4 linked regions of the Homo sapiens genome follow. The protein of the gene in region 1 purifies or fractionates together with the protein of each later gene. This does not show direct contact. Each region holds a gene or a part of one and is shown in the gene's direction. Other genes may lie near its edges.

Region 1 (4,240 bases):
AGCCCTGCAGAGCCCCATCCCCAGGAGTGCCCCGTGCAGGGAGTCAACCTTTCAGACTGGATGCGAGAGACCTGTGGACTCTGGAGGGATTTATTGTTCCTGTGCCTCAAAGGAGGGTCCTGGCTCTTAGAGGACACTCCTCTGGAGTCCTCAATGTGCAGCTTGGGGGTCCTCCTTTCTCCTCCCCAGTCCCCTGCCTCCCTGCCCTCATGCCCACTTCCCAAGGGCAAGAATTCCCTGGAAGTTGGCCGGGCACCATAGCGAGTGCCTATAATCCCAGCTCAGGAGGCTGAGGCAGGAGGATCGGCTGAACGTAAGAGTTCCAGGCCAGCCTGGGCAACATAGAGAGCCCTGTCTCAGAGAGAGAGAGAGAGAGAGAGAGAGAGAGACAGAGAGAGAGAGAGAGAGAGAGCGAGAGAGAGAGAGAGAGAGAGAAAAGGACGGAGGAAGGGAGGGAAAAAATTTTCTGGAGGAGCCTGGCCCTTCATTCTTCTTGGCACAAATGCTTCTCAGGCCAGTTTCCCCCAGGGCAATAACTACCTCCTTCCTGCAGACAGGAGTCTCCCTGAGGACACACCCCTCACAGCCCCAGCCTTTAGGCTCACAGAGCTCCATCTCTTCTCTGGGACAACCCCAAGGGAGCTTGGTCCCGGCAGAGCTTGCTCATGCAGTTGCCCAGTGTCCCACATGCTCAGGGCTCCTCTCGTCTTCTGACGCCCCTTGGGTCTCCCTGGCTTTAAGGCCCCTTCTCTCCCTGTAACCAGGCAGTGTGTGGCTGGGCTCAGAACATCTCTGCCTGGGTGGGCCGTGGATGAGCTGCTCCAGGTTAAAGTTCTGGGGCGAGTTGAAACAGTAAAGGGAGAAGGAGCTGGTGGGTGCCCCTGATATCACTCCTGGAATTCCCCCACCTGGAGGTGTCCAATGCACAAGGTCAACAGAGTCAGTTCTGTCCACTTTAGAAGTCTGGCTGAGACCACCTGTTAGCAATTAACCTTTTCCACAGGCAGAGCAGATATCGTTTTTCAAAGACAGGATGGAGGGCACAGAGGTGAAGGATACTTGTCCACACTTGAAGTGCACAGTGCTATCACCACTACTGGTGACCCCTGGCTCGGGAATGAGCTCAGTTGGTTTTCTGAATGTTTGTCAATTACTCTGTTTCCCTAAAGTTTGTGGGGAGGACTCCCACAGTCTGCCACAAGCAAGCATCACCATCTCCACTTGCTACCTACATCTGGACCAGTGCTCCCCCTCTGCCCCCAGGCCTGAGCTCATCCTGAGCTAGTGATGCCAGTGTCCAGAGCACATGGAGTGACCCTCTGAGTGCCGAGTGCTTAGGCAGAGCTGCCGTGCTCTGAACTTGAGCTCTGGTGGGGCTCCCAGCTCCATCATGCATGGTGACTAGGGGAAAGATGGGGCTGGCCCAGGACTCATGCTGAAAGAGAAATTCAATCTAACAAGGCCCATATTAATTATATTAACCCGGGAAATATGATGATGAGCAAGAAAGGAGCTTATGATTCATTTTATGAGAAGGATAAGCTCCCAAGTCATTACAGCATAGGAAGAACTCTAGAGCCACAAGAGATGCTTCCTGATGTCAGGGGGTTGGTGAGGAGAATATCATGCCAAGCTGGCCAGGTCAGGGAAAGAAGGTGACATTCATGTTGATGTTGAAGGAGGTATAGGATTTCAGCGGAGCAGGGATGGAGCAACAGGGAGAGAGAGAGGACAGAGAAACAGCATAAGTGAAAGCAGAGAGGCGGGAAATAATCTTCATAACAATAGTCACTTATAGAAGACCTATCAGCAAATGGACTGTACTGTTCACATACAGATGCTCATGGTAGGATGTGTCTAAGATTCCAATGGAGTGAAATTTTCCTGTGGCAGGCCAGATGGAACTAATCTAGAAGAACTCAGGTGGTGGCAGGTTCAGGAGGCTTAGGACTCAACTCTTACTTAAACTTTGATTAGCTATGGTGGGATGGATTTGAGCAGAACAAGATGGGATTGCAGATGTGCTTTAGGAGGACTTGCCTAGCAGATGTAGCAAAGTCTGAAAGGAAGAATCTGGGAGTCCGGAGTCTTAAGCCTGGAAAACCAGAGGAATCGGGCATCATTGACAGAAGTAGGAAAGTCAAGAGCAGGCTTGGATGATGCAGAGCTTAGTTTTCTGTGTGTTTGGAATCATCAGGCAGAGAGGTCTAGCAGATAGCTAGAGATGTGGGTTAGCAGAGTGTTGAGGGCTGGAGAGGAATGTGTGTAGAGAGATTAACTGGAACCCAGCAAGAAGTGAAAACATGGAGGGAAGAGTTCAGAACCAAGGACAGAGCCCTCGGGGCACCTGCATTTAAAGACAAAGGGTAGGAGGAAGACATTGATCAAGGTGCTGGAGCAGAATCAAACAGGTGGAAGATGAGAAGTCAAGAGCCATGAATGTTTCAAGGAGGAGAGCAGAGCTAGAGAGGTGGAGGAGGACCGGGATTGAGAGGAGGCTATTGAACTTATCATTCACAAGGTCACTAATGAAGTTCAGAAGAGCAGATCAACAGAGCAATGACAGCAGAAGCCAGAAGAGAAGAGTTAAGAAAGAGTAGACAGATGGCAGACAGCAGGTGCAGGAGAAACAAACAGTGGCTTCTCCATGCTTTGAATTTTCCCTTCTCCCTTACTCCCTTTTTTTCCCCTATTCTTCCTTTCTTTTTTCCCTTTATTTACTCATTCATTCAATAAACTTTTATTGTGTGTCTATGGTGCATTGTTCTGGGCATTACAGATAAGGACTTAAACTATGCAGAGTCCCTACTCCTTTAGAAGGGAAGTCTAAGATGTAGACTAACAATAGCGATGCGGTGTGTTAGAATTTGTGTCAGGGTTCTGCACAGTGCTCTGTGGGGGCACAGAAGGGAGGCACTCCCATGAGGGCCAAGCGGAGAAGGAAAATTGAGGGCTTGAGTTATAAAAATAGGGCAGAAGACTGGGGGATGATTGTCCCAGACAATGGTAGGGAAGAGTCATAGAGCATGGTGGATACCAGGACCTTCAGGAGCTACGTTACCATTACCATGTGTGCAGAGTGCATGTGAGGGAGGAGTGAGATATGGGGCTGGAGCCTCAGTCTGAAAGGGCTTCATGGCAGACCAAGAAGTTTGAATTGTGTTCTGGAGGCCATAGGGAGCCCCTGGAGGTTTTAATTTTTGAAACTTTTATTTTGAAATGATTATAGGCTTAACATTGCAAATATAACATAGAGTCCTGTGAATCCTTCATCTAGTGTCTTTCAATGGTGATGTATTATATAACTGTAGGACAAGACCCAAACCAGGAAACCAGCATTGTTACAATACTGTTAGCTAGACTGCAGACTTTGTTCAGTTTTCACCGTTTTTAACATACATTGGTTTATGGATATGTTTGTGTAGAGTTCCATGCAATTTTACAGATCCAGGTAACTACCACCCCCGTCAAAATACAGAACCAATCCATCATCACAAGGATCTCCCTCATGCTGTCCCTTGTATTTGCACCCTTATCCCATTCCTGTCCCCTGGAAACCACTAATCTGTTCTCCATCTCTACAGTGTCATCCTTTTGAGGACAAATGAAATTATGCAGTATGTAATATTTTGAGATTGACTTTTTAATTCACTGAGCCTTGAGATCCATACAAGTGGTTGCACTTACCACAACCAATAGCTGATTCCTTCCTATTGCTCAGCAGGATTTCATTGCATGGGTGTAAAATAATTTGTTTAACCATTCACCCACTGAACCCAAACAAGACATGTCTGTGCAAGTAATGGCTGCTGGACTGTGACCTCTGAGTAAAGGATAGGTGTTTCAGGGCCTCATTTTTATTCTTGGGACCATATGGTGCCCCCAGCAGGCTTGGGAAGTGACCTTCTAAAGTGCACAGATGGGCCTGCAGGGATGCTGTGTGGGCCAGCTCCAGGCTGCCATTCAGAGGCAGAATCAACTCTGCTCTCTGGCCTTGTGACTGGGGACCAGGTGGCTTCACCCCTTCACGTCCCGCTATTCTTATATGTGACATGAAGGCGCTACATTATGATTCTTCCACAAGGCAGTTTAAAAACATGGCTGCAAATTTCTTGATACTCCTTCCATGAAGAGTTGTGGCTTAGGTCCCCTCCCCTTGGGTCTGGCTGGGTTGTGACTGTTTCAACTTGTGGACTAGAACAGTGTTTCTCAACATTTTTTCATTGTTATCCTAAGATAA
Region 2 (3,500 bases), on another chromosome or scaffold:
GAGTGCAATGGTGCTATCTCAGCTCACTACAACCTCCGCCTCCCGGGTTCAAGCAATTTTCCTGCCTCAGCCTCCCGAGTAGCTGGGATTACAGGGGCACACCACCACATCTGGCTAATTTTTGTGTTTTTAGTAGAGGTGTGGTTTCACCATTTTGGCCAGGCTGGTCTCAAACTCCTGACATCAGGTGATCCACCTGCCTCGGCCTTTCAAAGTGCTGGGATTATAGGTGTGAGCCACTGTGCCCAGCCGACAGTTTGTTATTTCTTGCAATTCTTTGGGTTAACTGAGCGCAGTGGCACTTCTACATTGCTTGGTATAGCTGGGGTCATTTAGACAGCTGCATTCACCTGGGCCCTCAGCTGAGACTACAGTGTCCAAGATGGCCTCTTACCTATGAGAGTTTCTCCTCACTTGTTTTTTTATCACTTAGTTGTCTAGCTCAACCTTCATTATAGCATGGTAGTCGGCTTCCAAGAATGAGTGTTCCATGGGAAAAGATCCAATGTACAAAGTTCTAGCAAGCCTCTGCTTGCATCACACTTGGTAATATCCTGTTAATCTAAACAAGTCACAAGGGCAAGCCCAGTTTCTGTGGGAGGGGAGCATTGACACAAGTTCCTGAATATGGAAAGCGTGGTCCAGTGTAACAGTCTTTAACACAATTGACACACCACTCCTTGTAGTAATAATTCTATTTAAGATTGATATCTGTGTGTATATTGTATGTGTGTTTTATTAAAAATATTTTCCCCTAAAGTTAATTATTTATAGTAAGCTGTTAGGTGCAAAGAATTGCATAGGAGTCTGTATATTTCTTAACATGGATGAACTTCATTGTCTCAAAAAAAAAAAAAAAAACTACCACAAAAATACCAGCATATTTATTTCTCTTTTGAGATTATAGGAAGGAAAAATGATGGAAACATACATAGGGATAGTGCTGAATTTGCTATTTAAATAGTTTTTCATAATTTTATGGTTTAGTGTCAATTCCTAGTTTATATAACAACTAGTGAAAAAGAATGACTGGGAGTCCAGAGACCTAGCTTTTCTTGTTCAGGTATGGATAGTAATATATACATAATAACTGACATTTTATAATGTAACAATTTACCTGTTTCACAGTTTAAAATCCTTGAAATGAGATTACATGATGTAATTGCTGGAACCTTACATTGTAGTTGGCAGTGATACTTTCTTTCTTAGTGGCACATAAACTAATGGTGTGTCATTTTTGATATTTTAGATTCAGGGAAATACAGTAATTTTCTCAGTGGCATTAGATAAATTGCTTAATTTCTCTGTGCCTCAGGATGTAGAAATACATGACATAACTTCCAAAGGGAATAATGAAGAACTGTAGAAAATACACAAATGTATACTTTCCATTTTTTTAAAAAACAGTGAAGGTTATAGATTATAAAAAACAATGTTTTATATAAGCTTTCAAATGTACATGTTTATATTTTAAATGGCAATATTTAGTATTTACATATAAAAAAGATCATTTATACTGCTTACATTTCAAATTCCATTATATATCTAAAGTGGTAACATCTTTGGATTATTTTTGAAAGACCAGTGGCAGGAAGGATTGATTATAAAAGAGTTTGCTTGAAAGTACCCCTCTCAACCCTTCTCATAAGAAAATTAAACCCTGGCCTGGGCGGCTGCCTCCACGATGCCACTGCTCATCGAGGGGCAGCGAGTGCGGCTGCCACAGTCCGCCGGGGACCTCGTCCGAGCCCACCTGCCTCTGGAGGAAACAGCCAGATGTATCAGAGGTCAGTCTGTTCAACAACTGGGACCCCAGGGCCTTCTGTATGTTCAGCAAAGAGAGCTCGCAGTGACCTCCCCAAAGGATGGCTCCGTCTCCATTTTGGGTTCTGATAATGCCACTACTTGTCACATTGGGGTCCTGTTGCACACAGGTTATGGCGCCACCTGCTTGACACATTGTGATGGAACCGACACCAAAGCTGGGGTCCCCTTGATCATGAACTCCATAAAGTCTTTTTCCGACTGCGCTCAATGTGGAAGCCTGGAAGTATACCTCGTGGGAGGCTTCAGTGATGTGGGAGGCAGTTGTCACAAAAACTCACTCATTAACTTCTTAGTGAATTTGACAGGCAAGAAGATGACATTCACTTAGTGATACTATGATTATGTGTGACAGAATTAAATGACCAGGAAGAAAACGAATAACACTTTCTAATAATATATGGCATTGCTGTCAACTTAAGACTGCAAAGATTTACAGAGCCTCCTTTCTTTTTTTTGTTTGAGACAGAGTCTCCTCTGTTGCCCAGGCTGGGGTGCAGTGGTGTGATCTCGGCTTACTGCAGCCTCTGCTTCCAGGGTTCAAGTGATTCTCCTGCCTCAGCCTCCCAAGTAGCTGGGATTACAGGCGCCCACTGCCACACCTGGCTAATTTTTATATTTTTAGTAGAGACAGCGTTTCACCATGTTGGCCAGGCTGGTCTCAAACTCCTGACCTCAAGTGATCTGCCCACCTCAGCCTCCCAAAATGCTGAGATTACAGGCATAAGCCACCGTGCCTGGCCTACAGAGCCTCCTTTCAAGATCGAGGTCCAGAGGAGCAGCTGCGTGCCGCGTGAGCTTTAGCAGGAGGACCAGTGATTAGCATTTACGATGCAAAGACAGAACAACTTCGTATAGGACTGTACTCCTGGACACCATTTCCACATGTGGATTTCTGCTTGCAGCAAGATGACAAGCAAATACTAGAGAATCTTTCCACTTCGTGTCTGGCCGAGCCACCCCACTTTGTTGAACATATTAGATCTACCTTGATGTTTTTAAAAAAAAATACTGCTCCAACTAACACACTGTTTCCTGGAAATAAAGCCCTACTCTACAAAAAAAATGAAGATGGCTTGTGGGAAAAGATCTCTTCTCCAGGAAGCTAAAAAAATAGGAATTACCAAAGAAAGCAGAACCTTCTTGGCCTGACAGAGACCATTGGTGGGGCCAGCAAGAATCCAAATTTGGAACCTACATCCATTGGGTCTTAGGTCTTCTCCTTCCTTCCTCAGTGTTTTTCAAATGACTTTCAAAATAAAACCTTATTTTGGCAAAGGCAAAAAAAAAAAAAAAAAAAAAGGAAAATTAATTAAACCCTGATCCCCCCAGGCATCCATTGTGATGAATTAACTTCCTTCCTATGCATCTAGAATGGGACTACAGTATTTCTGTATCATTCTTAGGAAATAGAAAAAAATAGTTACTTACACAATTTTTTTGTAGGGCTTAATTTTTAGTGGAACTCCCAATTGAGAAAGGTTGCTTAGAGCATAAGTTGCATATAAACATGTTAAGATACTTATTTATTTTTTACCACAACCTTATGAGTTAAGTACATGACTTTTCCATAAAAGAGAAAAAACTCAGTTGTGGTAAGAATATAGATCTTGCAACCAGTTCAAGGTCATTAAGCTGTGACTTGAATCCTGGCAGTCTGGTTTCAGAGACCATGC
Region 3 (3,500 bases), on another chromosome or scaffold:
TGACAGGCTTGATGCTGGGGGCCACAGGGCCGACTGAAACCCAGATCAAGAGAGGGCTCCACTTGCAGGCCCTGAAGCCCACCAAGCCCGGGCTCCTGCCTTCCCTCTTTAAGGGACTCAGAGAGACCCTCTCCCGCAACCTGGAACTGGGCCTCACACAGGGGAGTTTTGCCTTCATCCACAAGGATTTTGATGTCAAAGAGACTTTCTTCAATTTATCCAAGAGGTATTTTGATACAGAGTGCGTGCCTATGAATTTTCGCAATGCCTCACAGGCCAAAAGGCTCATGAATCATTACATTAACAAAGAGACTCGGGGGAAAATTCCCAAACTGTTTGATGAGATTAATCCTGAAACCAAATTAATTCTTGTGGATTACATCTTGTTCAAAGGTACTTTGATAATGTTCTGCTCTCCCAAGGCCACAGGGCCCTACGATTGTCTCTCCCTTTCCTTTCGTTAGGCCAGCATATGATTAACGCTACGTGATTTTCTATGAATGTGTTTTCACGTTTCAAAAACAGATTGATACACATATTGAACAGTGCCAGACGCTGTCATTTGAGGCCCTTCCCTGGTATCCTATGTGCTTGTAGTCCTTATTATTTTCAGAGCACTCTACATAGCTCCCCTCTGACACTTAGAAGCATAGGGTCTTTCCAAAAAACAGGGGGCTGGGGGATTATCTGGGGGATTTAGGATTGCATCATTGCTCCTTCATTTTTACTTTTTGACCAACTCTCTGCCCTTAGATTCCTATTATAGAAAATAGGGACACTCCACCTACTACAGTGTTAGAGGCTAAATGAGACAATGAATGTAAAGTGCCCAGATGGGCTTGGCACATAGCAGACACTGAGTATCTATTGTTTACTTGTTCTTCCAAACTGCCAATCAGCAGGTAGAGCAGGAGTTGTCTCCTTTCTAAAGATGAAACCAGCTCAGAGACGTTAGCTTGATCAAGGTCACACAGTAAGTGGCAGAGGCAAAACCCAAACAAGGGCCTCCTGACCCCCTGATCCTAGGTTCTGTCCAGCCCTGCCTCCCTAATGGGGCACTGGACGTGGGTTGGATGCCACTTTCGCAGAGCTGGCACCAGACTTACAAAGCCCCGGCAGGGGAAGCCACTTTACAACCAGCCAGGCCACACCCCCAGGGCAGACGTTTATGTAGAGAGTAATGTACCTGCCTGCTAGTAGCCTCTGCATTGTGGGGCCTTCTCTCAGAACCACACTAAACAGTGGGTGGGTGAGAAGTGTCACTCCTGCCACCTTGGACTCTGCATGTGCTTGTGCCTGGTGTGAATGAGACAAAGTGGCAGTCAGAGGTGCCAGGCAAAGGCTTTTCTCTAAGCTGGAGCCAACTATGAGGGAACGACTGTGAATTCCGTTCAGGTCCAGGACAATGAGAGGAGCCAGGGATTGTTAGGAAACATTTCCCTGCTTTCGTGTGCGATTCCCAATAGGGCCTGCGAGTGGAGCTGCATTTTGCTAGCTGGGCTAGAGGACGGGGAAAATTTTGGGGAAATTTATTTTGCCTGCCTGAGCTGTGGAAAAGCCAACCCAATTAGGGAACGCCTTTCCTAGTTGGAACGAGAAGACGAGAAGTGAGAGAAGTGAGATAGAAGGCTCCCTCTCTATTATTTGAGCAAGAACAATGCTTTTCAAAGAGGGAATTTCTGCAATGAGTTCTTCTCTTACTTGTTCAGGGAAATGGTTGACCCCATTTGACCCTGTCTTCACCGAAGTCGACACTTTCCACCTGGACAAGTACAAGACCATTAAGGTGCCCATGATGTACGGTGCAGGCAAGTTTGCCTCCACCTTTGACAAGAATTTTCGTTGTCATGTCCTCAAACTGCCCTACCAAGGAAATGCCACCATGCTGGTGGTCCTCATGGAGAAAATGGGTGACCACCTCGCCCTTGAAGACTACCTGACCACAGACTTGGTGGAGACATGGCTCAGAAACATGAAAACCAGGTACAACTCTTGCCCACACCCTATACAAACTCTACCTTTCTGTACTGGCAAACGCTCAGCACAATTTCATTGAATGCACCGTGATTTAATGTCTCCTCCAGTGAGCTATAAGTTTCCTGAAGGCAGGGCAGCATTTGTCTTTTTTTCCACTCTATCCCCAGCATCTGTCACAGGGTGCCTGGCTGATTCATTCATTGAGTCCATCAGTATTTTACGTTCTGCGACTGTGATAAATATATGATGCCAGGGATCCATCAGCAAACAAAACAGGCAAAATTAGTCTGCCCTCATGCAGCTTACATTCTATTGAAGGAAGACAAAGAGTAAATTAAAAATAGGTAATAATGCAGGGAAGGGGACAAGAAGCATCATCAGGATGCAGATGGAGGTTAGACAAGGCCTCTCCAAGAAGGTAACAGTAAGCAAACATCTGAAGATGAAGGATAAACCATGTGGATATATTCGGGGAGAGAAGTGTTATGTTACAGGCAGAAGTGTACAAGTTCTGGGATGGGAGTGTACCTGGTGGGTTTGAAGAACATCAAGGAGACAAGTGTGGCTTCAGCAGTTGGAGATAAAATCAGAGAGGAAACAGGGGCCCAGTCCCCAGAAAAGACTTGGGCTTTCCTGAGAGAGGCAGGAAGCCACTGGATGGTTCTGAGTAGAGGAGCAACCTGATTTTGACTTCTGTTTTTAAAGGATCACATAAGCTCCTGTGTTGAGAAAAGACACTAGGGGGTAAGGATGGAAGCAAGGGAGAGTGGTTAGAAAGTTACTAGCAATCCAGGTAGAGATGCTGCTACCTGGACTGCGGTGGTGGTAGTGGAAGTGGTGAGAAGTGGCTGGATTCTGGATCTATTAGGAAGTGCAGGATCTGCTAATCGATTGGATGTGGGTGAGAGAGGTGTCAAAGGTGATCACAAAGTTTTTGGCCTTAGCAACTGGAAAGACGGATTTGCCATTTACTGAAAGGGGGAGGAACAGGTCTGGGGTAAGTGCAGAAGTTCAGTCTTAAACACTTGGATCAGAAATATCTATTAGACATCCAAGTTGAGATGTCAAGACGACAGGTGGATCTGGAGTCTAGGGTGAGGTCCAGGCCGGAGATATAAATTCGGTCATCAACACAGAACTAGAATCTAGACACATGACAGGGTTGGGGTCTGTAAATATAGAGGAGAGGAAAAGAAAGCACAGAGTGGGCACTGAAATGTCTGCCCAATAAATTAATCCACCTATTGGAGTACAAGGAAAATGGCTGCAATACGAATTCCATGGCTATGGCTTCTGAATCCTGTGACTCAGATTTTGGCAGACAAGTGCAGCTAAAGGTCCCCAGGGTTAGTTTTATCTTCATTATTCTTCTTTCATTTTTCTTCATATCTTTAGCACCTAACAATGAACCCCAAACATCATAAGCCCTCAAGTAATGTTTGCTGAATGAATAACTTTTTAAATTAATCTTCAAGACACGTCATGTCCTCAATTATTTTTAAATAAATAAAAAAATTTTATTT
Region 4 (3,500 bases), on another chromosome or scaffold:
TATGAGGTAGGGAGTTATTACCCTGATTTTCAAATGAGGAAATCAAAACCTACAGAGGTAATGACTTCCCCGAGGCCATCGGGGAGTGAGAGGTGTATCTAGGAGTCACAACCAGGTTAGGTTGGCCCCAGGCCATCACTCTGCTGTGGTGCTGCTCCATCACCTCCAAACCAGCTCCTAACAAGTTTATTCATTCATTCATTCATTTATTCAGAAAATGTGTAAAGATCATCCAGCCACTGTGTGTGAGGTGCTGGAATATACAGATGAATATAATATGGTCCCCACCCTCTGTGGTCAATGGAGAGAGAGAAATAAGGAAGCAGGCAGTTACAGTCAGCCAGGAGTGCTGGGAGAGCACAGAAAAGGGCACTCGGCCAGTCCCAGGCAATCCAGGAAGGCCTCTGGAAGGAAGCCGCGAAGTTAAGATAAGGAGCCATTAGCCATGTGATGGGTTGGGCTGGGACAGTAGAGGAAGCACTGGGAAAGTTCAAGGAGGTTAGTGTACCTGGAACATGGAGCGGACTGGTGAGCAACTGTGTTGCAGATGCAGGTGCCTTGTCCTTGGCACAGTAACATCCTGGGGTTTTGGGTGTAGAGCCTGGAGAGGTAGCAGAGGGCTGGCCCATGTTTATCTTGTGTAGTGCTTGGGTGGTGGGTGTTACAGAAAGGCTTAGGGTTTCCACATATTCTTCTCTCTCCTCTTGGCCATTTTTTATGATTATGACTGATATATTAAAAGCTATATATAATGCATGCATAGTGCCTAAGGAATAATGAGGTCTCACATGCCTAGCACCCCACGCTGGCCTCTGTTTGCAGGTGACTGTGGGAAAACACCTGACTGCTCGTGTCCTGTGCCTCATAGTGCTGCCCCTGGCTCTCTATACAGCCACCTTTGCTGTTCACTTCATGGTGCTGAGTAAAAGGTACAGACAGAGCCTTTGCAGCATCTTGCTTCTGGTTTTCCTTTTGCTCCTAAGCCTGTGGAGGGGTCGGATGATTTTCTGGGTCTGTGGTTAAAATGATAGGTGAGGGACCCCAGGGGCTTTTTCCTGTTTCTTTCCTGCTATGTTCTATCCTTTGGGTATATGCTAAGGGCTCAGAAAGGCCAGCACCCTAACCTGAAGGAAGAAGCTATTTTCGTTATAGCCAAATTGTCCCTTATCTCTAAACAGAGTCCCCTGTACTTAGCAAGGATAGGCCACAATAAGATGTGCAGTAGGAGTGAGTGTAACAATAACAGTAACTCCGGCGGCAACAGCTCCCACTTAATGAGTAGCTACTGAGAATCAGGAACTGTGTTCCGCATTTTGTACACATTATCTCATTTAATCAGAATCACTTGTGACTTCTCTTGGTTTCTTTAAATCTCTAGTTTATAAATGAGGAACTAAGGCTAAACAAGGTTATCTTGCCCAAGGTCGCACAGCTAGTAAGTGGCTGAGTTGGGATTTGGACCCCAGTTTCTCCAACTCCATCACCCACCTCTGTCCCATGATCTGATTCTACTTTCCTTAAACTATCTGAGCAGAGCTCTTCCCAGCGCTCCTGGGAAATCACACTTTCACTCCTTTAACTTGACTCTCTTCTGCTCTTCCTCTCCCCACAGTGGCCCTGGTGACGGTTTCTTCAGTTCTGCCTTCCAGGCCCGGCTTTCAGGGAACAACCTGCACAATGCTTCCATCCCTGAACGTGAGTGTCTCTGGGCCATTACAAAGGTAGAAGGCAGAGGGGTGTCCTGGGAGTTGAATTGGAAAAGACAAATATGATGGCTTTGGGTTATTTTAGCCTGTGATGGCACGGTGGGAGAAAGACCCAGATAGATCTGGTGAAAATACTCGAGAGTGAATCAGGACAGAGGAGAGGAAGACATCCTGAGCAGCAAGCTCTCTGACCCTAAAGAATGACTTCTCCTTGGTGGCTCTCCAAGCCAGCTCTGTGGGAAGGTCACTCAGAGAGAATATGGTGACAGCACCAGGCCCTTCAGAGCCAGTTTTTGGTTTCCCGCACCGCTTTCTGAGTGTTGCATTCGTTCATCTATGACAGATGGTAGTGGAGCGCGTGCTCACCCTCCAGAGATGGAGCCTGGTGTAGAGGAGCTCCACACGGTGTGGCTGGAAGCGTTAAGTACGTAAAGAGGGAGCACAGCTCTGGGGATTGACAGGCGTGAAGGAGCATGGCTGCTGGGCGGTTAAGGGCATCAGAGGTTCGTGATGTGGGTTGCCTTGGAGTCAGGCCCTGGAAGAATGTGTGGCTTTCAACAGAGGAGAGGGCATCTCAGGCAGGAGGGATGACATGATCAAAGCTGAGGACAGAGTAAAACTTGAGGCACAGGTATATGCAGAAAACTACTGGAAGATAAATGTGAAAAGTTAGGTTGGGCCCAGACTATGAGGGTTTGAGGTGTCTGGATGAGGTATTTGACTTCCTAAAACAGGCCGTGGAGACCTAGTGGAGGTCTTTGAGCAGCCAGGAGGCCAGGAAGGCTGTGCTATAGGGAGATGACATGGGTGGGAGAGTCGAGGCTGGCTGGGGAGGGGACAGGATTGTAGGCAAGAGAAACCCTCTGGGAAGCTATTGCAGGAACCTGAGCTGGGTATGGTGGGGCAGCCACAGGGTAAGGCAAATGGGCATATACAAGGGAGATCTGGACACAGCAAGAGAGGAAGAAAGATGTCACTAAGGACTTGAGTGCAGGTGATTGCTTCCTGGAGGCAGAGACTGCATCTTACTCATTTTAGTCTTTCCAGGACTTTGCACAGTGCCTAAAATACAGCGGACTCTCCCAGACTGGGAAGAATGAGAAATAGGGAAGCAGGAGAAGAAGTTGGGTTGGAAGGGCAGATACTGAATTCCACGCGAGAGGGGTTGATAGTGAGCTGCTTGGGGAAATTGTTGCCATGGGGCCAGTGGGATTTGGGGCTGATGCTTTCAAAGGAGGAATCAGACAAGTAAAACGGTAATTGATGCTGTGGCAGTAGCTGTGATTTGTAAGGAAACTGTAGAAAGAGGAAAAGAATAGAGCTGAGGTCAGATCACTGGGGAATGCAAGAGGAGGAGGAATTAGGAGAGGAGACTGCGGAGGAGCAGCCCTTGAGAGAGTGTGCGGTCGAGAAGTGGGAACAGAGAGCATTTCAAGAAATAAAGGTGGTCAGCCATGTGCAGGGCTGCCGAGGTTGGCCTGCCTGAGAACTCAGAAGAACACAGCTGTGGAGTTTAGCAAATTCCTGCTCATTATTTAAAGGCCTAGTTCAGCTGTCACCTCTTCGATCAAGTCGTCCTCTCTTTAATCCTTGGGAGAGAATTTGGCCTGTTCCGAGTTCCCACCATTCCCACCATGTCACACATTGTCACGCCTTTGTGGGGCACTTGCCCACTGTCCTATACTTGTCAGTGTGTGAAGCCATCTTCCTTGTAGACAGGGCTCTTCCAGGGCCACAGGCAGGCCTCCTCCACCTTTGGATCCAGTGTGTAATTCTTCTGGTCCACTGAATGAA

What was found.
Region 2: the proteins of CD300E (region 1) and RMDN1 purify together in Homo sapiens (affinity purification with mass spectrometry; one large-scale study listed by BioGRID and IntAct). This does not show direct contact.
Region 3: the proteins of CD300E (region 1) and SERPINA10 purify together in Homo sapiens (affinity purification with mass spectrometry; one large-scale study listed by BioGRID and IntAct). This does not show direct contact.
Region 4: the proteins of CD300E (region 1) and POMT2 purify together in Homo sapiens (affinity purification with mass spectrometry; one large-scale study listed by BioGRID and IntAct). This does not show direct contact.

Annotation. Positions count from the first base shown.
Region 1 is NC_000017.11:74,608,397-74,612,636, reverse strand, and holds the end of CD300E (CMRF35-like molecule 2 precursor), read left to right. Parts: 3' UTR 1-2,752; downstream 2,753-4,240. UniProt on the Homo sapiens protein: Probably acts as an activating receptor.
Region 2 is NC_000008.11:86,481,187-86,484,686, reverse strand, and holds part of RMDN1 (regulator of microtubule dynamics protein 1), read left to right. Parts: intron 1-3,500.
Region 3 is NC_000014.9:94,286,769-94,290,268, reverse strand, and holds part of SERPINA10 (protein Z-dependent protease inhibitor precursor), read left to right. Parts: coding exon 1-393; intron 394-1,709; coding exon 1,710-1,983; intron 1,984-3,500. UniProt on the Homo sapiens protein: Inhibits activity of the coagulation protease factor Xa in the presence of PROZ, calcium and phospholipids. Also inhibits factor XIa in the absence of cofactors.
Region 4 is NC_000014.9:77,296,884-77,300,383, reverse strand, and holds part of POMT2 (protein O-mannosyl-transferase 2), read left to right. Parts: intron 1-822; coding exon 823-929; intron 930-1,612; coding exon 1,613-1,695; intron 1,696-3,500. UniProt on the Homo sapiens protein: Transfers mannosyl residues to the hydroxyl group of serine or threonine residues. Coexpression of both POMT1 and POMT2 is necessary for enzyme activity, expression of either POMT1 or POMT2 alone is insufficient.